Linked DNA regions of Homo sapiens. The protein of the gene in region 2 interacts with the protein of the main gene of each other region in a pairwise test. Each region holds a gene or a part of one and is shown on either strand. Other genes may lie near its edges.

The links.
Region 1: the proteins of PIMREG (region 2) and SPAG5 interact in binary tests that used the Homo sapiens proteins (3 or more experiments, as listed by UniProt).
Region 3: the proteins of PIMREG (region 2) and MAL2 interact in binary tests that used the Homo sapiens proteins (3 or more experiments, as listed by UniProt).
Region 4: the proteins of PIMREG (region 2) and BEND5 interact in binary tests that used the Homo sapiens proteins (3 or more experiments, as listed by UniProt).

The regions. Positions count from the first base shown.
Region 1 is NC_000017.11:28,577,071-28,582,051, forward strand, and holds the end of SPAG5 (sperm-associated antigen 5), read right to left. Parts: intron 3,051-4,981; coding exon 2,939-3,050; intron 2,768-2,938; coding exon 2,681-2,767; intron 2,416-2,680; coding exon 2,295-2,415; intron 2,183-2,294; coding exon 2,071-2,182; intron 1,683-2,070; coding exon 1,602-1,682; intron 1,459-1,601; coding exon 1,303-1,458; intron 1,223-1,302; coding exon 1,148-1,222; intron 1,021-1,147; coding exon 940-1,020; intron 701-939; coding exon 629-700; 3' UTR 504-628; downstream 1-503. UniProt on the Homo sapiens protein: Essential component of the mitotic spindle required for normal chromosome segregation and progression into anaphase. Required for chromosome alignment, normal timing of sister chromatid segregation, and maintenance of spindle pole architecture.
Region 2 is NC_000017.11:6,439,491-6,447,454, reverse strand, and holds the start of PIMREG (protein PIMREG), read right to left. Parts: upstream 3,001-7,964; 5' UTR 2,967-3,000; intron 2,380-2,966; 5' UTR 2,345-2,379; coding exon 2,051-2,344; intron 2,045-2,050; exon of another isoform or gene 1,424-2,044; coding exon of another isoform or gene 1,268-1,423; intron 1-1,267. UniProt on the Homo sapiens protein: During mitosis, may play a role in the control of metaphase-to-anaphase transition.
Region 3 is NC_000008.11:119,211,338-119,218,366, reverse strand, and holds part of MAL2 (protein MAL2), read right to left. Parts: intron 3,745-7,029; exon of another isoform or gene 2,740-3,744; intron 1-2,739. UniProt on the Homo sapiens protein: Member of the machinery of polarized transport. Required for the indirect transcytotic route at the step of the egress of the transcytosing cargo from perinuclear endosomes in order for it to travel to the apical surface via a raft-dependent pathway.
Region 4 is NC_000001.11:48,773,865-48,780,950, forward strand, and holds the start of BEND5 (BEN domain-containing protein 5), read right to left. Parts: upstream 3,028-7,086; 5' UTR 2,968-3,027; coding exon 2,742-2,967; intron 2,298-2,741; exon of another isoform or gene 2,165-2,297; coding exon of another isoform or gene 2,101-2,164; intron 2,067-2,100; exon of another isoform or gene 1-2,066. UniProt on the Homo sapiens protein: Acts as a transcriptional repressor.

The DNA.
Region 1 (4,981 bases), about 22 Mb from region 2:
CTCCCACCTCGGGGAGCCTGGCCATGACCTTGCGTTCATTTCTGCCACAATCCCTTTACCACGTGCCGGGCACTTGCTGGATGCTGGGGATTAAGCTTAGTCTGGTGAAGAGGAGGCACCAGAACAGTAACAACAGGTTGAGTAGGTGGGGCAGAAGCATCTTCAAGGTGCCCAAGTTCAGGGCAGGAAGTAATGAACTGAGCTTCTCTGTCCTCACCCCCATATTTGCCAGGGTATACCCCCGAGGGGGCTGGGGAAAGTAAGAGAATGAAGCCTTTCTGTTTCCTCCAGGCGGTGAGCCAGGGAACAAGCAGTCCAGTGCCCAGAGTTTTGGTGAAAGCAGAGGAAGGGAGGAAGGGCAGGCAGCCTTGGCTTTGGATGCAGCAGGAGGTGGAGAGGGATCTATGGAGGGTGCCCAGGCAGGAGGCCCAAGCTGCTTCTTCCCTGACTTCATCATCCGCCCCCTCTCACCCAAAAAGTAAGATTCCGTAAGCTTGGAGAAATTCATTAAATACACTTTATTTAAATAGCATTTATCTCAGTTGGCTCTATGCCAGTTGGTCTTGGTATTGGGGTAAGGGGGTATTGCAGGTAAAAAGAGGTGAAGCAGATTCTGGCTTTCAGTTTCTTAGCTCAGAAATTCCAGCAATCCCTGTAGTTCTTTGCATCCCCTCACCACCTCTGGAATAGAGAGCAGGGTCTGGGAAGAGAGGCAGAAAACGCAGCTCAGGACCACAGACTTAAGGCCCAGGGCTCCCAGCCCCAGGAGGCAGCCGCTGAATTAGAGGGGAGAAAACAGACACCACAGAGAAGCCTGCAATAGTGATTCAGGCCCAGCTCTCAGCACAGGCTGGGAACCAGATCTGTGCTCATTAGTACCTCCTGGGGCCAGGCCTTGTACCAGGTTCATTAGTGATATCACCTCCCTCCTGCCTATACCTTATAAATATGCTGAACAATGTCATCTAGTTTTTCTAACTCCTTGTCAGAGCGCCGAAGGTTCTCCTCTAGGATATTTCTCTAGAAAGCAAACAGATTTTATAAGTCCTATGCATAAAAGAGCAAACTTGGTAGGACAGGGGAAACATGGCGGGGCATTTGTTAACGATGGTAGGAAATGGCCCTGGAATGGCATGGACATTCTTACATGGCTCTGGAACTTGATCATGAGTTTTTCCTTCTCATTTTTCATCTCCAGGAACATCACTCTCAGTTTGTCCACCTAGAAATATGTCCAGATCAACAGGGGTACAGCCTGGGGTCCCCACCTGCTGTCCAGCTCCTCTGTTAACTCTGAGTCACCTCCTGAGAGAGCCACACTTTCTCCTGGATCCAATTGGTGGCCATAGGCTGGCAGTTGGAGTCCAGCTGGCCTGCCAGGGCCTCCTGGAGCACTTTGGTCTCTGTCTCCGCACGCCGAAGTGAGCGGGTAAGGTGGGTCACCTCCTCTCTAAGGCTCTGGGAATGAGAATGGAGAGGTGTCCAATAGGACATAAGGATAGACAACATGTGGTGAACAAAAGCAAACCATTTCTCATACTTGGGATCCTGGCTGACCAGTAACACAGAAGGCAAAGGCCTGGGCATGATGGTGAACATACTATGAGCTCGCCACTCTTGTCTATCTGTTCTAGGATCTTCTCATTCTGCTGCTGTATCACTTCCTGGAGCTCCTTTTCATTCTGTGAGGGAAAGGGAGGTGAGAAGACACATGAAGAGCTGGTCTCTTCACAGCCCTTGCCAGGAGGTAGGAGAGAGTGCCTGACCCATGCTTAGCCCACATGGGACCAATTGATATCACGCCAATTCTTTCCCCAGGGCCAAGCCAGGCAAGGCACATTTCAGTGTTGGGAGAGCTCTGCTAGAGTTCCTGACTTCTCTCCTGAGTCAGCCTGGGAAGACAGGTCAGCCCATAGCTGACATGTGAAATGTCTGACCCCAGGAAGGGCAAAACTAGGGCAGTGGTTGGAAAATCCCCACCACCCAGATTCCTGGAGAGATAATGGCTCCCAGTGGGCCAGTAGAGCTGCCCCAGTTCTTCATCGCCCCACTTCTAGGTCCCTCCTTCACCTTGTAGCGCAAGCACAAGGCCTGGTTCAGCTTCTCTATGTCTGCTTCTTTTGCCTTCTGGACTTCCTGATGCTGTTCTTCCTGGGCCTGCAGCCTAGCTTGCAGCTCACAACTGAAGGAAGGAAGAATTTAGCAACATTCCTGTCCTCTCAGGGATCAGTTGGACCCTTGGCATAAGAGGATGTCTCACTGTCCCTCTGTCACCAAAACTGCATCCCACTCACATTTTTCGCTGCAGAGTCCTGATGGCTTCTTCTTTAGACTCTTGTAGCAGGGAACAAAGACTCTGAAGCTCAGTAGTCATAATACTCATTTCTGCCAGGCTCTCCTCCATGCCTGGGGTCTCTGAAAGAGAAAGTCCCAGATAGAGGTCTAGCCTTCCAGCCCTGGAAGGAAGGAGTGTATAGCCATCATTTCCACAACTCTTATCCGTGTTCCCCACCCACAGGATTTGAATGTCTGGAACATTACAGATCCCAGAAGGCAGAAATAAAATGAGCCCAAGTAGAATTGAGGTTTTTAGAGCAAAGCACTTCTCACTGCTTTCGTCTTTACTCATCACCACCAGATTTTCTAGAAATGAGGCAGGATCCCTGGAGCCCCTCCTAACCTGCGGGCTGAAGGGAAACCATTGATGCTACTCGGGTGAAAGCACTCTTGTCACTTCCAAGCAAGGGCACAGGAGTTGATTCTGGCTCTAAGAGAAAAACCAATAATGGGAGAGGGCCCCTCTGATGATCCAGGCAGGGGTCTACCATAATGGAAGCCAGGGTAAGATAGACAAGCCCGCTGGTGGACATCTTCAACAGCAGAAGATATCAGGAGCAGCGTCACAACTTTCCCACCCCCAAATCCCAGGGCCTTTAACCTTCATCTGCCACTGCTGTCAAGATGCTTCCCAGGAAGGTCCTGTCATTAGGCAGAGGGTGTTCCTGGGTGGGAGGACAGGCTGTACTCAGCAGAAGGGTCTCTTGTTCAGTCTAAGGGCAAAGAAGAAAAAATAGCTGCTGTTCAGGTCTAGTGAACTCCTGGGCTTCCAGGTAACTCCCAGCCATCTCCTCCAAAATGCTGTTCCACCTATTATCTCAATTCTCTATCTTCAACTTCTCCATTAGTGCCTTTCTCTGAACATGTTTATATTCTTAAGCCTCTCCAACAAAAACAGCAGTATTTTAAAAACAAACCTAAACAAAACAAAACAAAACCCTTCTTCTTACCTTAAATCCCCTTTTAGCTACTGCCTTTTCTAGAAAGAAAGGAAAGAAAGAAAAAAGAAAGAAAAAAAGAGCCTATACTTCTTGTTTATAACTCTCACCATCTATTGACTCCCCAGCCCACTACACTCAGGCTTCTCCCCTGTCATTCCACCTAAATTCTTGTCATTTGGTTCACCAATGGCAGCCTTACTTTCAAATGCAATGCATATATTTCAGCTCTTGTTTTACCTGACCTATTTGATATTGATGACCACATTGTTCTTTTAGAAACTTCCTTTTCTTAGCTTCCAGGACATGAGTCTCTCTCCTTTAAAGGCAGGCCCCACACCTTTCTGGTTATTTCTTCTCTATTCACAGGTCCTTCCTTAACTGCTGGATCCTCTGGGTTAAGTCCTTGGCCCTAAATTTACTCTAATTCATTCCCAGGGTGGCCTTGCCTTGGGAGCATCACAAAAACATCTACTTCAAACTTCCCTTCCACATGAATGACTCTTCCATCCCTCTCTCAACTTTTTCCCAGTCTTTTTCCCAGTCTGCAGACTCAAAGGCTAACTGCCTGTGAAGAATCTACCAGAAGGTTCCACAGTCAATCTGTCAACTTAGTATGTATGAAGCTGAGTTCACCATTTTCCCTGTGCCCTGATAGGGAACACCCTATCAAAAGTCTGTTCCTACTCCTGTATTTACTATTCTAGAGCAGGGAGAGGGAAGGCTAGCAAATTGTGGCCTACAGGTCAAATCTAGCCTGCCAACTATTTTTGTAAATAAAGTTTTATTGGAACACAGCCAGACCCATTAATGGCTGTATCATCTATGGCTGCTCTTGAACTACAAAGGCAGAATTGAGTAGTTGAGACAGAGACCATATGGCCCAAAAAGCCAAAAATACTTATTATATGGCCATTTATAGGAAAAGCTTGCTGGCCTCAGTCCTGAAGTAGCTGTGCTTGTGGCTGCGGCTGCTAACTGGCTGCGCACAGGTAAGGCCAGGCAAGGCGGGAGCCACTCAACATCTCCGCTTCATTTCCTTGGCTCTTCCCCTGCCATCCTCGTCCTGCTACCTGGGACTCCGGGATGTGCCCTTTCGACCCTTTCCTAACATCTTTGCTCCTTTCCGCGTACTTGAAACCCCATGGCTCAACCTCTTCTGTTCTATCCCTCTTCAGCTCTCCCAGCTGGACCTCAGCTTTTCCAATCCCAAATCCTCCTCTACTTGTTGGATTTTTCCTTGGAGTCTGTCTCTCCTACCCAGAGCATTTCCTTCTCAGCCTGCTCCCTCTCCTCCTAGGCTAGGTCCTCTCTCCAGTTCTCCCGCCTTCTCTGCCCCCCGGTCTAGGTCTCTCCCGCTGACTGGTTAGCCTGAGTCACCACTAGCTCCCCTCAGTCTCATCTCTCTCTCAGGCTCTCTACTCCTTTCAGCCTTGGTCCTCTGCCCTCCCGTCTGGGTGTCTGAGTTGTGGGGAATTGAAGTGCTTCCTATTGCTATCCCTCCTGCCACACAGGTTGAAGTGCTTCCTGGGCACAGAGCTGACCCGGAGGTGTCACTAGCCCTAGTCTCCACACACTAACACAGCTGACCCGCTGGGCCCTCTTTCCTAGCAATCTAAGGATCATCATTCACTCTTCTAACTTACTCTCACATCAAATTGGTCACTCTTACATCAAATTGGTTCTACTGCCTCTGCTTCCTAAAT
Region 2 (7,964 bases):
GGCAAATGGAAAGGTTAGCACAGACAAAACCAAAAGTTAGGCCGGGCGCGGTGGCTCACGCCTATAATCCCAGTACTTTGGGAGGCCGAGGCAGGCAGATCACCTGAGGTCAGGATTTTGAGACCAGCCTGGCCAACATGGTGTAACCCCATTTCTACTAAAAATGCAAAAAAAAATTAGCCAGGCGCGGTGGCGGGTGCCTGTAATCCCAGCTACTTGGGTGGCTGAGGCATGAGAGTCGCTTGAACCCGGGAGGCGGAGGTTGCAGTGAGCCGAGATCGCACCATGGCACTCCAGCCTGGGCGACAGAGTGAGACCCTGTCTCGAAAACAAACAAACAACAACAAAAAAAAAAACCAAGGGTGAGCTACCTTGGTCTCCAGACCATACAAGCAACCCCTACACTCAGCAAGTGTCCTGTAAATACAGGCTATTGTTAGTCTCCAGGGTGAAGGATGTGAATGACTCCTCATGGAATGAGTCCACGGCTGGGACCCAGCTCAGAGCTCTTGGATATGACAGCAGCAGTCAGCCGCAGGAGGACCCCCCTGGTGCCTGGAGCCTGTTTGTCTAAGTCCAAACTCTCTTTCCAGACAGACGGTGACCCCAGGACTGAAGGAGAGGGCCCCAAAAGAACAGGCCACCCCGCCCAGCACCCCCTGTACACCAAGAGAGCACCTGTCTTCTTGCCTCGGGTCTCACTCACTCTATCCACCCTCCACAGTGGTCCATAGTGATCCTTCTAAAGGGCAGTTCTGACCGTGACACTCAACTGCTCAAAACTCTTCTGTGGCTTCTTGTTGCCCATAGGACCAAGCCCCAACTCTTGGGCCTTTCACACCAGCCGGGTGACAGCCGTGAAGGCTCTTCTTCATCAGCTAGACTGTCTTTGCCTTGACAAGCCAGAGCCCAGTGTTTGGAGCGAAGCCCAAGTTAAATTTGATGAGTTATGTGACCTTGGACAAATTCATTTCATTTCTCTGATCCCTGAGGGTGGTGAAAACAATCAAAAAGTGCTTCCAAATAAGGACTAACATTTGGCTCAGAGAGCTCTCTGCAGAGGGTCCAGAAAGAGCCACCCACTTTCTGGAGAATTCTTTCATCTTCAGAATTCCCAATGAGACACCGAGGAGAAGCCTCTGCAGCCCCCAATCCTCTCCCTGGAGGTCTGTTCATCCTAATGGCTTCTGTCCTTTCTAAGTGACACGTCTACACCTCCAGCTCTGGGTTTAAAGATGCATCCCTTGAAGGGTCCACAGACACTTACATCCAATATAAGGACGTCTTCCTGACAGCAGCTCTCATTTGACAGCAAATCCCCTCTAACTGGACCTTCTCGGCAGCTCCTGAAGTTTATCCCCTGCAAGTCCAAACCCTTAGTCTCCATCAGGAGCATCTCTGCCTCTATTCCCTTCTCCATCATGTAGCTAAAGGGCAAATTCTAATATGCTAATTAGACCAGACTTTCCACTGTTTAGAATCTTCCGGACTCCTGATCATTCCTGGGAGAGTTCTAAGCTCCTTCATATCCTTTCCCCCTGCTCTACCTTGCTCTCTGTCATCTGTTCATACCCAGACTACAATTCTGGCTCTCCTCAGGGATACACAGCTGAGTGGGCAGTACACCTTGCTTTCCCTCAGCTCTAGGCCTGGACTTGCACTATTTCCCCTACCCTAAATACCCCTTGACCTTTGCTTCCCTGGGTGAACTCTGGAATCACCTCCTCTGGGAAGCCTTCACCGACTAAGCTTGCATTTGGTGAGCCTCACTATTGGTCACTTGCTTTGCAATTTCCTATCACGTACAGCTCTTATCACCTGGTATTGTGAGCATCTGTTTCCTCCAAGACATGCTTTCATTCACTCATTCAACTATTTGTTGAGCACCTATATGTGCCAGGAACTATCTGGGGTGGTGGGGAAACAGCAGTGAACTAACCAACGTCCCTGTTTTCATGAAGTCTATATTCTTGAGGCTCTTTGAGGGCAGGAACTGCCTGGCACCAAGGAAACACTCCATAAAAAAGATGATTAGTGTTGTCAGTATTACCTGGGACACGGCACCCAAAGCACTCTTAGCTGAGCGAGCTGCAGCCTGGAGGCCCTGCTGACCTGGCTCTGGGGTTTCCAGGCGTTTCCAGGAGGGCCCTGCGCGGAGGTTGAGGTTGACGGCTCTCAGGGGCAGCCTCCTTTGGAACTGTCTGCACAGGGACCCCAGGGCCCCTACAGAGGTCTCCTGATGGCTGACCACAGGCTGCAGCTCCTTGCTGTCCTCCAGCTGCTCCTGGTGCTGGAGAGATCTCCGGCGCACGGAGGTCCCCATGTTCTGCCACCGAGAAGCCATCTGCCTGGCCAAGAGTCTTCTCTGTCCACTAGACCCTGGGGAGGAGGGCGAAAGGCAGATCAGCAAGGCATTCCCCATACCCATTCCCAGGCCCCACAGAGACCCTGGACACAGGGGAAGAGACGGGATGCAGCGGGGTGGCGGGGGCGGGCGAGTTGGTAAGTGTGGGTGCAGGAAGGAGGATGCTTCCTGGAAGAGGGGCCTCGGGTCAGCAGCATTTCTGATGTCCCGCCCTTCAAGTTTCCAAAACAGCTGTCTTTTCATCCCAACCTCCTTCCTCTCTCTGGCTCAGGCGAGGAGGGGAGGCAGGGTCAAGACACGCCGTAGCCGAGCTTCAGCGCTGGGCCCAGGACACGATCACCATCTTCTTCACCAGCTCGCCCAGACCAAACGCGCACCCGCCCAGACCCCGGCCTTCCCACCAGACGCCCCGATTTCGATCCGACTTCTTGTGGTACCCAGACGACCCCACAGGCCGTGCGTGTCCGAACCTGATGCCCTCCCCTGTGAACAGAACCTGATGCCCTCCCCTCCGAACAAAAAAATTGTTTTGAGTCCAGATCGCGCCATTGCACTCCAGCCTGGGCAACAAGGGCGAAACTTGTGCCCAGCCCGCACTCACCCGACACCACTAAGGCCGAGCACAGCCGCAGCACAGCTGCTCCTCGCCCACCGCAGCCGATTTGAAACTCTGCGCGGCTCCGCCCCCGGCCCCGTCCTCACAGCTGATTGGTTCCGTCCCCGCCCCCGCCACCGCCACCGCCCCGGGGATCCGATTGGCTCCCTCTCTCGCGGCTGCAAATGCTGCGCTTGGATTGGCCCGGCCGTGCCCATTCATCGCTCCGGCCCCCGCCCCGCCGCCAGCCTCGTGGCTCCGGGCTTTGTATCCTGCGTCCCGCTCGCGCCACTGCCCTTGCTAGCCCAGCCCCCGCGCATCGCACACCGGGTCCCCTCCCTGGAGCGCGCACAGGGTTCAGGCTGCTCTGACCCATGGGGTGGAGGCGGAGGTCCTGGGACCTAGGCCTCCTGGCTCAGGCCCCAGGCCCCAGGCCCGGCAGCGGGCAGAGACCCCTCTCATCCTGCCAAGGGGTCTGGCTTTTCCTTCTTGCTCAGTGGTTTTGTCAGAAGGAGCCAGGGACTGGCAGTGCAGAGCCCTGGGTTCCCAGAGACGTTTTCTTTCAAATTTCCCTCCTGACCCTCCCTTCCTGTGACAAGACACTGTCCCTCTCTGAGTTCCCCATACTCGCCATCCACGCTCCGCCCTCCCTAGAAAACGCGTCCCGGAAGCGGGGATAGACCAGAGTACCGGTCTGCCCTCCACCCGTCTACACCGGCTCCCCGCCCCCGCCTTGCCCCACGCATCCCTCCCTCTCTCCAGCGGAATGCCTGCCTCTCTTCTCCTTAGCATCCAAACAAATGCAGCCATTATAAAGCTCTCTCCAGCTCATCTTTCTCCTTTCGGTGACCTCAGAGCAGTGCTGCCCACTCCCCCGGCTGGTTTCTTTGTTACTTCTCCGCACAAGAGCCTGAGATGATGGCTTCTTGAGACTCTGTCTTCAGCCCTCTCCGTTTCTGGGTGGTCTCACCCACTCCTTTGGCCTCAGTGATTTCCAAGGAAAGGATGATGATAATGATTAACGTGTATATGGCACTTAGTATGCACAGGTACCGGTGTTGCAGTTTATTAACTTACTTGATCCTCTGCTATGGTTTGAATGTGTCCCTCAAATTTCACATGTTGGAAATGTAATGCCCAAATTCATATATCGGTGGCATTTTTTGTTTGTTTTTGAGACGGAATTTCACTCTTGTTGCCCAGGCTGGAGTGCAATGGCATGATCTCGGCTCACTGCAACCTCCGCCTCCCAGGTTCAAGCGATTCTCCTGCCTCAGCCTCCCTAGTAGCTGGGATTACAGGTGCCTGCCACCACGCCTAGCTAATTTTTTGTATTTTTAGTAGAGATGGGGTTTCACTATGTTGGCCAGGCTGGTCTCGAACTCCTGACCTTAGGCAATCCACCCGCCTCAGCCTCCCAAACTGCTGGGATTACAGACGTGAGCCACCGTTCCTGGCTATCGGTGGCATTTTTTAAGACATATAAATTGTTATTTATTCAAATTATAGAATATTATACAGCACTGAAAAATAAGCAAATTGTAGCCAGATGGTGTAACTTAAGTCAATCTCAGAAATATGTTAGATTAAAAAAAAGCAATATGCAGACAAACATAAAGTATGACACTGTATAAATTCAAACGCAAAAAAGCTCAACAATATGGTTTAGGAATATGCACATACATTTGTGGACAAAGCTATTATGGAAAGCAAAGGAATTGAAACACCAAAATAAAATAAGTCGTCGTTTTTGGAAGGGTGGCAGGAGAAGAGGATGTAATGAGGAAAGGGCTCAAAGGACTTCAAAGATAATGTTCCATTTTGTAGGCTGGGTGGTGGCCACATGGATGTTTACTTTCTTCTTTTTTATTTTTTTTCTTTTAGACAGGATCTTGCTCTGTTGTCCAGGCTGAGGTGCAGTGGTACAATCATAGCTCACTGCAGTCTCAACCTCCTGGGCTCAAGCAGTCCTCCTGCCTTGACCTCCCAGAGTGCTGGGATTACAAGCGTGAGCCACCTTGCCTAGTCTTTATTATTCTTTAAACCATATATGTAAGTAATTTTATACGTATCACTTTATAAATGCGTGTGTATACACATACCTGTACATATATTATTTTCTAAGTATGAGCTACTTTGTAATTTTCTTTAAAATTTTTTTTAAAATTGACAAGTAATAATTAAACATTTATGGGGCACATAGTGATGTTTTGATACATATAATGTAGAGTGATCAGATCTGGGTAATTGGCATATTCATCATCTCAAACATTATCGTTTTTCTGTGTTGGTAAGAGTCAATATCTTCCTTCTAGTTATTCGAAACTATATATTATTGTTCACTCTAGTCATTCCACAGTGCTATAGAATACTAAGCTTATTACTCCTATTTAGCTGTAACTTTGTGTCTTTTAACAAATCTCTCCTATTCCTTCCTTGCACCTACCATTCCCAACGTCCAGTATGTTGATGAGGTGAGGCCTTTGGGAGGTAATTAGCATTAGATAAGATCAAACAGATGGGGCCCCCATGATGGTACTGGTGGCTTTAAAAGAAGGGGAAGAGAGACCCGAGCTGACAGGCACGCTTTTGCCCTCTCACCATGCGATGCCTTCTGCCATGTTACAACACAGCAAGAAGGCCCTTACCAGATGCCAACCAGATGCCAGTGCTATGCTCTTGAACTTCCCATCCTCCAGACCATGAGCTAAGTGTCTTTTCTTTATAAATTATGCAGTCTGTGGTATTCAGATATAACAACAGAAAACGGACTGACATCTTCATTGTACCTACACTTGATGAGGAAGCTGAGAATACAGAATTTGGTAGGGCCCAAATTTCACTCAGTTAGTCTACACCAGGGCCAAGGGTTCAAACTTCATCAGTCTAGGGCTAGGGTCCCTGTGCCTAACCACCACACCACACTGCCTTCCTCAGCCCCTAACACCTCCACCCCCAGCTTGAGCCTCTCATCTGACATGTATAGCCAACTACCTCCTGGGTCTCATCTCCTCTTGAATGCTGCAGGCATCTTAGATAAACACACCCTAGCTGAAGTCACCCTGGTCTCCTCAATCCTCCTCCTCCCCCATATTCCCTCTTGCCTGTGATCCATTAAGCACTGTGCTAAAAAATGGGCCACAAAGGTCAACAAAACAGATACATTCCTTACTGTCATGGAGCTCAAATCTAGTGTGTGGGGAGACATAGACATGAAAGGATCAAATAACCAATAATCAGTTAATCAAAGAACTATGCAAAACTTATGTTATTGAAAGCTGAGACCTAGAGAATGAGTTAACCAGGCAACGAATGTGTGTGTGTGTGTGTGTGTGTGTGTGTGTGTGTGTGTGTGTGTGTGTGATCTTCTTGGCTCAGGGAACACCACGCTTAAGGAACCAGCATTCACTGTAAGAGACCCAGCACACACACACGTGAACTGAAACAAAAGTTTCATGAAACAATACTTGACTATGTGTGATATGACCTGAGATTTTATTTTTTATTTCATTTAAAAAAACCTTGATGGTTACAACCCACTATATTCATTCTACGAGTCACTAATGGAGTATGAGTTGTGGTTTGCAAAATATTGCTCTAGTTTGCCTGTCCATTTTGTTCACAGTGAAGTTGTTTATCAAGAGTCAGAAATGCTTGTTTTCAAACCTGTTTACAACAGTTGCATTTGTTACTGTAATTAAGGAATTTAACTGATGTCTTTTACCAGTGAAATCCAAGGGGGAAAAGAAAAAGTTGTTGTTTCTATGAAAACTAAGATGAAAGTGTGGGAAAGACTCCATGAAGGTGAAACATTTAGAAACAAGCCAAGTCTCTCAAACCGGAGTGTCTTATCACAATAGCCTCCCCAGTGCCTGTCATGTCACAGGCATCCGTAATAATAGCTTATATTTTTTGAGCCCTCACCATGTGTCAGACTCTCTGCTAAGGGCATTTACTTTCTTTATTCTTTTTTAATCCTCAAGCAATTCTATGAAGTAGGTACGTTTTTTATTTCCATTACAGATGACAAAAGTGAGATGCAGACAGGTGAAATATCTGGTCCAAGATTGTATGGGATGTCAGAACTGGAGCTTAAATCCAGTGACTGACTTCAAAGCCTGAATTCTTACCCTTAGATTACACAACTTTGTTAAGATCAGGGGTGAAACAATGAATGCATGCATGCATAAAGAGGCCCTCCCTGCTTGGAGCTTTCCACCATCTTCCCTCACTCAGAATGGTAACTGGCAGGCCAGGTTAATGAAGAACAGTCTCCATGGCAACAAGTAAAGGGGGAAGAAACATTTTCTTATGAATGGGAAGCCTTTCCCTTTTGCCTTGCGTGGAGTGGTGGCTGGAGGGAGGGAAGGAGGCTGTACTCAGGGGAAGGAGGCTCCTAGTCCAGAGGTCGGTACATTGGCTTCTGTTCTTGGTAAGGAGGAAAAACCAGTCACTTTTTCCTAGCAGAGGCTTTTGGAGGGGGAGGGAATCCAGCATCACCCTTGCCTCCGTTGGGGAGGGGGACAAACGAGGAGCTCCAGCCCTGCTCTCCAGGGGCTCTTTGTCCAAGAGCAAACATTCCACTAGTTTCCTTGACCTCCTGAAACTGTCAATCTGATGGAAGACATAGACATTAAACACATCATTGTAAACAATTACAATGGGGCAAAATAGCATGAATGTGCAGTGCTAGGGAGAAGTGACAGGGTATAAGGGGCATGGGGAGATTGACAGGAGCTGGAGGTCAGGGTAGTCTTCCCTGAATGTGTGGTGTTTGAAGTGAGGAGCTAGTGGGCCAGTGGTTGGGAGTCTGGAGCATTGCCAAGCGTTAGGACTGGGGAAAGCCTAGACAAAAAGGGTGGGGCTGAGATGAGGGGCTGAGGGTAGGGGATGGGGTGGCAAGAGACAGGGTCTGTAGGCCAGAGAAGGAGCTTAAAATTTGTCCTGAAGGTGGTGGCAACTCTTTGCTGAATTTGAAGAGGGCAGTAGGTTATTAGATTGGCA
Region 3 (7,029 bases), on a different chromosome or scaffold from region 2:
TTATCGTACTCAAAATTACAGCCCTTCAAACACCTCAAAGGCTTGGAAGGGAAACTAAATGCTGCATGAACAGGAGTCAGATTCACCTCCTCACTTGTGGGGTATGTGCTGCATGGAAAGGGGAGAGGGAAGGAGTGTAGGAATGCCCCCTCTCTCTCACTCAAGTAAATACATATGATACATCCCTAGAGCTGAGATTCTGTGAAATCCAGGCTCGCTTTGGAAGAGAGAGGATGGGCCAGAGAACATAATTGAGCCCACTTTGGAGGGCCACCATCCTCATTTTGAGACTGTCATACTGGTGTATGGATCACTCTGGCCTTGACACAGTTATTATTCCCTACTTTGTGATTTCCTTTTGACAAAAGCTACTTTTCTTCTTGAGCTTCCCAACTTGGCTCCAACTTAAACTTGGCTCCAGTTTTTTTAAGTTAAAAAACTGAACTTAAAAAATTGAGATGACCAATGCTCAGTATATTCACTTCCTCTAATTCCGGGCATTAGTGAGCTTAGAGTGTTTGCAAAACGGTGTAATTATCAGCATTCCTGTTCAGTAGAGACGACTCTGGAGGTGGCCATATTTTTAGAAGTAAAAAGCAGAACACAAAAATGGTTAAATCTGACAGAGAACAGATGATAAATACAGTAGCAACTGCAGAGTACACACTGTGAAGAAAGGTATTCGGAACTATTATATGTTTCGCCCACGTTATTCTCATCGTCTTGGATCTGAATCCATATTCTGACCCCTTCCCTGCCACTGCCTTCCACTGCTTTCTAGTGTTCTAAAAAATCCAATAATTATGTATAAAATAGCCAAAGGCACCTCAATTTGAAATTTCTTTAAGAAACTAAGTCAGTGCTTATGACGTCAAACCTCAAGCTCTAACAAAAAGACTACCTTTGCTTCCAGGCAATACAAAGGTAAAAACCTCCTAGGAGTAGGTATCAGCATCTCCCGGTGACTCAGTCACCTTTTATCTTCTTAACCCAACTTTAGGTGTACTGGGTACATACCAGAAGTACTCAAATATATTCTGAGTTGCAGTTATTAAATTGCTACACATTCCTAAAACAACTGATCTTCTTTCTGGTTTAACACATGTTTGTTATGTTTGCTTGGTCTCTGCAGACCAGAAAGGTATGACTTGGCTGAAACCCTACCATAAGAAAACCACGGAAGTATTTATCCACAAATCACACTAAACTGAATCCTCAGGGTTTGATGTGAAGACATGTTTTCACTAGAAACTGTGGAATGGGAAAAATACATAGTCCCACGGGAAAACATGCTCTTGAGCAAGTAGCAACTCTTGCAATTCTGGGTGCATGAATTACAGATTCTTAACTCATCTCCTGTTTGGACGGTCTTATGTTCCCAAAGGGTTCCTTTTGCAAATGCCCTTTTTCTTTTCAAATGTCACTTATTTCCTAATTACCTGCTTTTAAACATACCCTCTGACAGCTAAAAATTTTTTCAAACCAATTTGACACCTCCATCTTAGTATACCCACAAAGTAAACCGGCTAATTTCTACTGTGACCTATTTTCAATTAATGTTTGGAATGAGAACAGGAAAAGGTAAGTGAATTTGAAAGGATAAAGGCTGGCTAAACTACCCATAAGGGAAAACACTATTTAGAACTTTCCGTATTAAGCTCCCTCCTTCTAATTCTATTATCTATATATTGGATAATTCATTATTCTACTGCAGTGAGAATGAACACCCAGCAAACATAGAGGAAAAGCAAAAAAATATTTGTCTTCCAGTCTGGCTTGTAGAGTTAGAGTAAGAAGTTGAAGCTAATGGTGATAGCAGAAATAGTACTTAACATTTACTGAGCTCTTATGTTATAAGCACCGTTATAAGGGTTTTATTTGTGCCAATTTAATCCTCACAGACCTTGAGAGACAACATTATTATTCCTACTTTATAGGTAAGTTAATTGAGGTACAAATCCATTCATAACTTGTTCCTAGTTATATAGTTAATAAGTGTTAGACCTGAAATTTGAACTTGGCAATTGGCTTCCAGAACTTATGATTTTAACATTCTGCTATTCTGCCCCTCTCATGGTTTAGTGTTCATTCTAAAGCAGGGTTTCTACCCATATTCCATATGATTTCCTAAAATCATATAAAATTGGGTGGACAAGTACATATGCATTTTTCTGAGGACACAGTCCACACCTTTCATCAGAATCACAAAGGGGTATGTGGCCCCCCCACCCAGAAGTTCAGAACACTTTATCTACTTGTAACCCCTTCTATTTTAATGGATGTTTACTTATGGGGTGCTGCACAGGAAACATCATGGTTATAGAAGTGTTCAGTATATTCAGAAATTTATCAGCTAGAAAAAAAAAGATTATCTACAATTAGCTATATTTTACATACAATTCGCATTTTGAAAGATTTCCTTAAACTAGAAACATACTTAGCCAACACATACAATATAACTGGTAGATGTATTTACAAAGCAGCCCACACAAGTATGGATTCATTCACAATGCGACTGTAGATCACTGGTACCACTACAAGGCATACTGCTGCCCCCCTCCCCAAGCTCATCATCTTCCCTGTAATGCTTCTTTTCCTACCACCCTCTCTTTGCATTCCAGCCTCTACCCCTCATCCCCTGAGCATAGAGAAATGATCACACTTGACCATGTTTCTGCCTAGCATGCTGCCAGTAAAAATTCTGCTGCATAACTAAACTCCAGTTACCATGTTTTCCAGAAAGACTTCCCTGGCCAGGTGCCATCCCTCGGTGCTTCCACGGTTACTGACGCGTGTATTCTCCACAGCAATTACAACTGGATCAAAATCATGGATCTACATGCCCATTTCACCCACTAGACTGTGACGTCAGAGTCGGTGACATTGCCTTCAACATCTCCGTATGCTCATTACCCAGGGTGGTGCTTTCTACAGAAGGTCCTCAATCCATCCTCCTTGAAATGAATGGAAACCAACCGGCATGTGTAATGAATGGTTCCAAAAGAGAATGCTCTAGGAGTGCAGCTTGGGATGCTAGGAACACACTCCGGTCTGGAGCCCAGCTCACTCCCTGGTTCATGGTGGATGTCCAAAAATAGGCATGAAAACGAGTGAAGCGAGAATATGTACTTCTCAATTCTCAAGTTATTATTGGTGACACCCACCACCTAGTACCAGATCTCAGGAGGCTGAGATGGAAAGTTATGGGAAACTTTGTACCTCTTGCCAGTTGAATTCATGACACCCAATTTTAAATCTTTTTTCGGCCCCAAATTTGCCCACATGACCTATTTCTATTGTAACTGCCACTGGAACTTTTGACCAGGGTAAATCTTGTGCCTTCTTCCAGTGCCTCCTGCTCCCCTCATCAGTCCCCATCTGTCCTCTAACCATGCTGACTTCTGTCCAAACTGCTTCTGGACTGGCCCTGGCATAGACCTGCATTAGAGATGCAAGGCAGCAAGGTGTTTATTTATTTAGTTAGTTAGGAAAACAGAACAAATTCTGGGATGTAATGAGAAATGACATACACATAAGAGGCTTATGACCAAAATACGTTAATACTCATTGCAAAAGAAGTTCTACTTTTTAGCTTTACATTTGAAGGCTTTAAAAATATGTCTGAGAGTGCTATAGAGAGTTATACTTTCTTCCTCCCCATGTGACCTAAACCTCCAATTCAGCTGCTTAAATAGCTGACACCGACCCTAAAATGGAAAGCTCATATTACAGAGGAGAAATATGTTCTGGTTCTTTTTATTCTTCTTTATAATAATTCCTCTCGATTTTGAAAATTCCCTTTTCATGTTTGCAGGTAACTAGTTATCACTTTTAGTTTAAAGCTGTTCCTGCGTGCCAATGCCCTGATATTGGCCAGACCCGTATAAATCACTGCCTCTTTCCTTTCTTTTTACCTTCCTCCTTCTCATAGCTATTATACAGAAGTTGAGATTGTTATATATGTTGTCTATAAAAGGATATGGTACTCTTATATAAAATAGAACACTTAGGAAATTCAAGTTAAAGTGCAGAAACCTGGAGAAGAATTATGGCAGTTTACATGTTGGGCAAGATTTAAGAGGGCATCTACTCCCAAGCTGCCCTTCTCCACTCCAGCCAATGTCTCCAGACTATTTTCACATACTGCTCAGTTTGTACTATAGAACAAACAAGTAGCATTTGTTAAGTACTGCATGTGCATGATACTGGGTATGCCAACCTGGTTCCTGTCCTTTGTCATTACAGGGTCATTTCTATTCAGCCATATCACTGCAAATACACCATGTCCACAGCTCCTACCACCACGTACAACATTTCTATCAGGCTCTACAAAACAAATCTCTTCTCTATGACTTTTTCCTTTGGAGCTCAAGGTGAATCTTTTCAGCTACTTGGTTTAAAGTTTTCCATATTTCAGTTCTTCGTATTTTTTTTTAAAGGACTGCCAGTCGGAGCAAATGATTGTTGATAATAATCTCTGGCAGGGGCATTGGTTTATTTTCCCTTATGAAACTTTAAAGGTTATTTATTTATTCATTTATTATTTTGGGGATGTAGTTTCGCTCTTATTTCCCAGGCTGGAGGGTGATGGTGCGATCTTGGCTCACTGCAACTCTGCCTCCCAGGTTCAAGCAATTCTCCTGCCACGGCCTCCCAAGTAGCTGGGATTACAGTCATGTGCCACCACACCTGGCTAATTTTGTATTTTTAGTAGAGATGGGGGTTTCACCATGTTGGTCAGGCTGGTCTTGAACTCCTGACCTCAGGTGATCCACCTGCTTCAGCCTCCCAAAGTGCTAGGATTACAGGCATGAGCCACTGCACCCGGCCTAAAGATTCTTTTAATGTGGATGAAGATTTTTAATCCAGAGGCAAAGGAAAAAAAATACCTACAGTTTTAAAACCCATTTAGGGGACAACTATGTCCATGGACAGCTCCCTCTTGCACACTGCAAATAAGCAATGTCCCTTCACAGTCAACATTTTCCAGGCAATAAACTCTATACATCAGAACATATACATGTTACTAGTCCAAAGTCAAAGCTCTCAGTTGAAAATAACCTGAAGTCCCTTTCATAGATTTATCTGCATGACTGAACCTGCCTCCCCTAAAGTCCCTCCCTCACAATCATCCTTTCATTAACATTTGTTTTTCTGGCATAATTCCTCTGAGTTACATCTTATATTTAAGTTTAGTCTAGGTATCACTTTGGGGCAAGTCAAACTTTACATACTTAATTGACTTCCCAAACCTCAAACCTCTCTCTCTCCTTCTCCATCCTTCTTTCATTGGTTCTATTTCAGGTTCTTTTCATCCCTTATCTAAACTATTGCAATAAGCCCCCTAACTGCTCTTCCTGCCTTCAGTCCCTTTGTTTTACAACCAAACTTCATCACTCAAAGGTTTCTAAGACACAAGCTGGATCAAGTTTCTCTCTGTCCTTCACAGCTTTCCATCAGACAATAAATCCAATGCCTTGGCCTAGCATTTCTCAGCAAACCAGAACCTGAGTCCTACCTGCTGTTTTTCCTTTTTCTGCCACGGCCCACCAAAATCTCACAACTGACAGAACGTTCTTGCCATTGTCCTTCTTGTCTCTGTGTTTGTACGTGTCCTTGTTTCTACCTGGAATTCTCTTTCCCATTTTCTAATGAACCATGGCTCATTATTGAAGGCTAACCTCAAATGTCCCCACCTCATTAAAGCTGCCTGTTCTGACCTCTCCAGAAGTCAGATGTACTCTATCCTGCTGTTCCACAATACTTTTTATAAACCTATATTAGCACTTCATACACAGCATGGTAATTCTTTCTTGACTTTATATTCCACCAAACAGTAATTTCTTTTAAGGGCAGGAGCCATGTTAGTTACTCTATTTTCAGGGCATAAAAGAAGGCTTGATGCATAGTATGTTCTTAATTATAAGCTGAGTAAATGAAAATTACTATGGCATCCAAAACACTGCAGTTAGAAGCATGTGAATAAGAATCCTAGAGTATCTCCCACAAAGATAAATGTGAATGAATAACTTGGGGAATATAAGTAGTTTCTTAAACACTAAAACTGCAAAATAAAACACAATGAATTCAATGATTATCTGTATTCTTTTTCGTGATTAATACTATTAAAAATTCAATTTTTCTTGTGCATTTTACAAGATAAGCTCATTGAGAGCAGGGATCCTAAATATCTTGTTCAGCCCAATAGTGCAGATGATCCCATGTTATTTTTTAAAGTAGATAGACCCACCTGGAAAATGTTTTAGCTGCAGTTCACTTCCCATACTTAATTCTTTCTTCCCTGAATGGTAGTTACTTTTGTGACTATACTCTCAACTAGGTTATAGGTCTTTCTGGTGAGGAAGGGTTTAAACATCTTTGTTCCCAGAGGAGTGCCTTGCACATAGTAGGTATTCAGTAAATACCCGATGAGTGATTTTTATAAAATATTCACTCAAAAAACTGTGAGATTTTGAAAGTGCGAATTTTGAAGGTGATGGCTTCCATTCTAAGCTAAAAGGCTTAGCTTTGCAATATTAACTTAGTATTAAACTCTGTGGCAAGCATACATTGGTAAGTATTGCTAAGCCCAAAACCAAAGAGCTGACAATTAGGTATCCAGGAGTGGAACACACCTTATCTCCCTATCTCAAAAAAAAAAAAAAAAAAATCACTATGCACGTGAGATTGTAATATTCTCCACTTAAGAAGCCAGTGCTATAATGCTTTTCCTGGTGCTCGTAGGCTGGCACTATTTATATATTTTGTAATATCTCCCAACAAATGGCTTATATCTGACAGGCTGTGAATAGAATACGTTAAGGGGAATTGGGAATGAATACTTTGAGCCAAGTTAAATGGTTAGTGTGAGAACCAAACTCCAAGAGCATGGTGTCAATAGCGTAGTCAACTGTTGATAGCCCAGTCCTCCTTTGTCAGGTACAATTTTCACATGTTAAGTTTCAGAAGGCAATGGGACAGAAATGAAGAACTCTTAAAGACAAACGAATTTGAACAGAAGGTCAAAAT
Region 4 (7,086 bases), on a different chromosome or scaffold from region 2:
TAATGTGTAGGCATATAGCAAGACTATCAGGAAAGAAGGAGTTTTGTTTTTCCTTGAACTGGGATTGTAATTTGATAAGTAGTGGTATAAACCACCTACTATGGGCAGTAAAATGTAAAGTCCCACAGCAGTCGGCTTTGACATTTCCTGAGTATAAAAAGAAGTATACTTCAAGACAGCTCTGGGCTGGCTTGGGCCAACACTCAGTATAGCAACATACTTCTCACCAAAAGCCAGAAAGCTGTGCTGAAACTACCTTGGAAACCATTCTATTTGTGTCAGAGAGATTAATTAATCAATTAATAGCTAATCCACAAACATAAAGCCACCTCTGCTTCCCACTTGAGGGGATTCCTCCTCACACCTGGTGCCATAGCACAGTGGTATTTACATATAGGAGATGCCAGATGAGCTCTCTGAAGTCACTGTAAGCAATTCTCAGAGCCACCAAGTTTAAGTCAGGAAGGGGTTTGAAGATACATAGGAGTTATTCCAGGGTAATGAATTCCCGAACTCACCCTGGCCCTTCGATCAGGTCTCTATGCAGGGCAGTGGGTACCCAGGAGATCAAAATTCAAAATGTGGTTTGGCCAACTTCAAGTTGTTGTCTTTTTTTCCCCTTTCTCCTCCCAAGAAAAAAACTGAAGAGAGGTAAGGGGAAGTGTTTTTCAACTAATTCAAACTGGCACACTTCTTTGAACCTACTCTGCCAGTTTCCAAATGATGCTTGGGTTTTTTAAATAACCATACAGATTTATCAACATTCTAACTTGGAGGATGAACAGTCTACAGGTTCAAAATTCATGGTTCTCAAACCAACAGCTACATGTATCTTGCTTCTGAGGACTTGTGTCGATTTCAAAATCAGAGCTGGTGGGAGCTGCCATCTGCCTAAGTGGCCTCTCTGCAGTGCCTGAAGAGTCAAGCACAGTGTATATGTATGTTTGCTGAATGAATGAGTAGATGAATGAAACAATCTCCAAGAGAGGAAAACAGCCATTACACACTAAGAAACTTATCACTGACTCTCTTTAACACATCACTTCTACTCTCCTAGGACCCTTCCAGATCTAGGAGTACAATACAATCGTCAAGAAGCATGCATGCATTTTCTTCTAGCAAAAGGGAAGCTAAGGTTACAACCTAGTTATAACTTCCTCAAGCCTATCGTCTTGGGAAATAAATTCCTAATCCTTTCCCTCAGGTAATTAAAGGCAAGTAAGCAAACAAAATAAAACCTAATCAGCTATGAATGGTTCCCTTTTCTAAAATCTGCTTCCCCTCCCTCAGTTTCTTTGGCCCTAGGTGTCTGGCAGTGGGTGGGCCTACACTTCGGTGTGCCAGGGCTTATCAGGGAGGTGGTATGGATAGAGCCTGTCAAAAAGGGTCCAAGTGCTGCTGGTCAGTTTCCAGTTCTTCCACTCTTCAACTTCTGCAAACCGATTTTTCAGAGGCAACATGAGTTGTGAGACTGAGCTAACTTGCCATGAGACCCTGGGCAAGTCTCTATGGGTTGAGAGAATGTTGGGTTCATCTTTTAGGCTAAATGTGAGGAAGCAAAGGAACTTGAAAAAAATAGAGAAGGTCTCAAAATTACAAAACATCTTCATTCAGTCACTAACCCTTCGTGTTCTTTCTGGTAGAAGGCAGGAACACTATTTGCCCACTTTAAGGTTCATTCTCCTTACCAGCAGGAGCTAAAAAGGCTGCTCCCCAAAACGGAGATGATACTTCCCCCTTCCTTGCTTGTCTAGACTCAAACTTTCTGGAACTAGCTGGGAAAGAGGGCCAGCTGTCTTCTCTTTACAAAGGAAAAGGTGTCTCAGCATGGCAGGAAGAACTGGAGCATAGGAGGATAAAGGGCTGGTTTCTTTCCCTATCACCAACTGAACCTCAGTACCCTCATCTACGAAATGGAGATGAGACTAGCTGCCTTAGCCCATCTCTCAGGGCCCTGGCAGGGCAGGGATGAGAGGTCCAGTGTTATTCTGACCCAGAAACTCTCTCCTGGCCCTCAACTCTCTCATTCAGGGAGCCTTCTGGGAGATTCAGAAAGGGGTGTGGAGGCTGAGGGATGCCTTAGGGCCTCTACCTCCTTACCTCTGCCACCTGGCCAGGGAGGGGCAGGAGAGTGTGGTGTGGAGCCCAGTGCACTGAGGTTCATGGCCTCCTCATCCTGTCCAATGTTGGCCCGGATGGGACAAGGATGTCATAGCTTCCCTCTGTGAGGAGGGACTCCCACCTAGAAGATCTGACAATATCCTTCTTGCTCCTCACTCCAAGGAGGTACCAACAGCCTTTAAAGGGAGAGAGACAGACAGCTTGAGAAACTTAATTCTTGACAGAAAAGAACAGAGGGAAGGAACTGGGAGAGAGGTAAAGAGAAGGTGAGAGAGAAATGACGGTACAAACAGGTAGGGAGAAAAATGGAAAGTGAAGGAACGAAGAAAACACAAAGAATCAGAAAGAGGAGGACAGACACAGATGAAGAGATGAAGACGGACTGACAGCGCGGGAGCTTCGGGGAAGCGGGGAAGACAAAGGGGACCATCCGGTCTTTTTAACTGGCCTGGCCTCTTAGAGACACCCCGTTCCCAAATGAAATGCCCAGAGGACGGGAGAAGGAGGCAGGAAGGAGCAAGCAGTGGCTCCCCCCGGTCCCCTCCGCCCGGGCCCCCGGCCCCTCCCGGGGTCCCAGCCCCCGCCCGGGTCCCACCGTCCCTCCCCGCCCGCTTGCTCACCTGCCAGCGCCAGGATCTGGGCCTTGTGGAGCAACAGCGCGCCCCAGTCGCGGGGGGCGCGCGGGGGGCTCTCGGGCCCGGCGCCCAATTCCTCCGGGCCCCGGTACACGGCGTACACCTTCTGGTTGTCAAAATCCAGCCGCGAGCGGGGGCTGAAGTCGCGCACGCACGACACGGGCAGCGCGTAGCAGACGTTGTCCTCCAGGAACCGCACAAAGGCGTACATGGTGGGCGCCGGGGGCGGGCCCCGGTCGGGCAGCTCAGCCCGCGGGGCGGGCGCGGAGGTGGGGATCCGGCGGGGGGCGCGAGTCTCGCTACGGTGCTGGGGGGGGCGGGGGCGGCTCCCCAGGACCCAGGCTCCCCCCACTGTTATTGTTCCTGAAAGCACCGTTCTGCCAATCGGCTGCTTTCGCCTGGGCGCGGAAAAGGGAGGGAGGGGGGGAAAGGGGGACGAGGGGCGGATGAGGGGGGTTTGGAAGCGCACTGCCACTTGCAAAGTCAGACCCGAGCAATCACAGCCGGAGCGCGATTCGAATGGGGAGGGAAAAGGGTTCAGAGATTCAGTTGCAATAAAAATAATAACAAGAGCATTGCAGGAAAAAAATGCATTGATTAAAAGGTGCGCTGCGTGCAGGATTATATTGCTTCAACAATCGCGCTGCCAAATTGCATTGCAACAAAACTGCATTGCCAAGTAGAGAAGTGTATGAGTGAGTGAATGCGGGATAGGGGTGGGGGCAATCTTGATTGAATCTCAAAGTGTAAACTTGGAAGCCAGCAGAAGTTTGGAGTGTTTTAAATGTAGCCACCCTACCCGCGCCCCCAGCCCCGCACCCTCCCCGCGCCTTTCCCAGCCCTTAGTTTGGCCCCGCCTTTTCTTTGCTTTCTTTCTTTTTGTTTGTTTGTTTGTTTGTTTTGTTCTGCAAAACTGCCAGCTCCCTCTGTGGAAAGGGTCAGTCAGACAGAAAATTTCCCCTAGAGCTGCCAAACCAGTTCTGACCAGAACTGGGGCTTATCTGAGATTTCCAGTTGTGCCAGCTGGCTGGGGAGGTGGAAGGTTTGTCAAGGGCTGCTCTCATCTGAGGGAGCAGTGGCGCCCCTCTCCTCTATAGTCTTTCTCCATTGAGATACCCTCTCCACAGCACGCCCACCACTGAGCAGGGACAACTTGGAATCGCGGAGGGAGTTGAGGAGCGCTCTGGGTAACACAGGCCCAAGGCTAGGGATTTCTGGAGCACTTTGAAGAGTACAGGAATAGTACTCCATGGAATAGCGGTCTTTGCTCTGTCTCTTGCCAAAGAGAGCCTGGAGGGGCTTGGGTCCCCTCCAAGACAAGCCGTGAGGACCAGCCAAAGGGGGCTGATTGGGCTCTGTACTCATAGGAACCCTATCCCACATCAGAGGAGGTCAGTACCTTCACAGGGATGCCTCGTATCAAATATGGCTAGTTATATTTCTGTTGCCTAGCCAGACCTGGCACTTGACAGGGAGTTAATGAATTTTGGGTAAAGAAGAATAAATAAAAACCCACATCCATCCATCCATCCATCCATCCATCCATCCATCCATCCATCCAACCATCCATCCATCTGTTCATTCATTCCTTTATTCAAGCAACCAATATTCACTGAGTTTACACCACCTGCCAGATTCTGGGCCAGGTGCTGGTGATAGAAATGAAAAGATAAACACCTGGATTCTTGGGCCTTGCAAAGTCAGTGTACCAGAACTTGAATCTCAGTTTTGGGTTCCTGTGCCAAAATTAGGTAACTGTATGAATAACATACCTTTCCCATCCTCACAACCTTTACAATCTAGTCTAGGAGTATTAAAGAAGTATAAGCAAGTAATGACAGTATAATGAGAAAAGTATTGTCATAGAGGAATGCTTAATGGAGGTGTTGGACTCAATTAAATGTTATATTTTTAAAAATTCATCTTAATAAACTTTAGCTGTAAGAAAAAAACAGAATAAGTGCACCAAAATGTTAATAGTGATTTTTTTAGCTTCTTAGTAGTGGTAGATGATTTTGTTTTTCCTTGTATTCATTGTGTGTGTGTGTGTGTATGTAACTATTTTCCACAATGTTTTATTACTTTATCATCAGAAAACATCAAACATTATAAAATCAAAGCACTGTGCTCATATTTCACATCAGCTGCACTGACAATGAGGCAGATATTTATTTCACTGTGAAATAGACAGTGCGTTATATAAGTGAATCCCATCAACATATAGCTCTCATATCCAAATGTGTAGGTCAGTACAAATTTTTTTAAACCAACCCACTGGTTATGTGGTACAGCCAAAAATGACCACCACTTGTCCTGATGCAGCTGTTGGTCTTATCTTGCCCCACAAGCTTGTGGAAAAAAAAGGAGCCACTCTGAGTTGTTCCAGCACATTTACTGTCATGATTATGATTTCTTTGGACTGATCCTCAGTGAGTTTTTATTTTAAGAATACATTCCTATGGTGGTCAAGGGGAAGTAATGTGCAGCAAGACTTCTGATAATTCACAAGATGGATCATGCAGAGTTGGCCGTATTTAACAAAAGTCCTTGAAGCTCCGGACTATGTTCCCAAAATGATTTCAAGTAGCCAATGGCCAACCTCCTCTCTGCATCTAAATGGGGGTGACCACAAAACATTACCAATCTCATCTCTTACTACCTTCCCAGACACAGTACACTCCAGACACCTAAACTATTTGACATTTCCAAAGATAGCATGTTTTAGCAGGTCCCAAGCTTTTGTGCTTTTTCTGCCTTCATCCTGGGAAGTTCTTCCTTCCTCAACTTACCCTGAAAATCAGCTCAAATGTCATTGCCTTTGTGAAGCCTTTCCCAACCACCCACACTTTTCAAGGATAGCCTATCTCTTTCTACTACAATATTTTGTCCCAGCACTTTTTATCTTCCCTCACTAGAATAAGAGCTCTTTGAGGGGAGGCAAAGGCTGAGTAACTTTAGCATCCCAGGTACCTAGCACAGGGCTGGGGAGTAAATGTTTATAAAACAAATGTATTAAAGAAGGACATAAAGAGAGCATGAATAACAAACCTCTTGCACATTTTTTCTTGAAAGTCTGTTCCTCTCTTTTTTTTTTTTTTTTTTTTTTTCTTGAGACGGAGTTTCGCTCTTGTTGCCCAGGCTGGAGTGCAATGGCCTGGTCTCGGCTCACTGCCACTTCCACCTCCCAGGTTCAAGCGATTCTCCTGCCTCAGCCTCCCAAGTAGCTGGGATTACAGGTGCTCGCCACCACGCCTGGCTAATTTTTGTATTTTTAGTAGAGACGAGTTTTCACCATGTTGGTCAGGCTGGTCTCAAATTCCTGACCTCAGGCAATCCACCCTCCTCGGCCTCCCAATGTGCTGGGATTACAGATGTGAGCCACCGCGCCCGGCCTTTATTATTATTAATATTATTATTATTATTACACTTTAAGCTCTGGTATACATGTGCAAAACATGCAGGTTTGTTACATAGGTATACACATGCCATGATGGTTTGCTGCACTCATCAACTCATCAACTACATTAGGTATTTCTCCTAATGCTATCCCTCCCCTAGTCCCCCAGCCCCCCACCCCCCTACAGGCCCCGGTATGTGATGTTCCCCTCCCCGTATCTATGTGTTCTCATTGTTCACCTCCCACTTATGAGAGAGAATAGGACACAAACAAATGAAAAAACATTCCATGCTCATGGATAGGAAGAATCAATATTGTGAAAATGGTCATATTGCCCAAAGTAATTTATAGATTCAATGCTATCCCCATCAAGCTACCATTAACTTTCTTCACGGAATTAGAAAAAACTACTTTAAATTTCATATGGAACCAAAAAAGAGCCCATGTAGCCAACACAATCCTAAGCAAAAAGAACAAAACTGAGGCATCATGCTACCTGACTTCAAACCATACTAGAAGGCTACAGTAGCCAAAACAGCATAGTACTGGTACCAAAACAGGTATATAGACCAATGGAACAGAACAGAGGCCTCAGAAATAATGCCACACATCTACAACCATCTGATGTTTGACAAACCTGACAAAAACAAGCATTGGGGAAAGGATTCCCTGTTTAATAAATAGTGTTAGGAAAACTAGCTAGCCATATGCACAAAACTAAAACTGGACCCCCTCCTTACACCTTATACAAAAATTAACTCAAGATGGATTGAACACTTAAATGTAAGACCTAAAACCATAAAAACTCTAGAAGAAAACCTAGGTAATACCATTCAGGACATAGGCATGGGCAAAGACTTCATGACTAAAACACTAAAAGCAATGGCGACAAAAGCCAAAATTGACAAATGGGATCTAATTAAACTAAAGAGC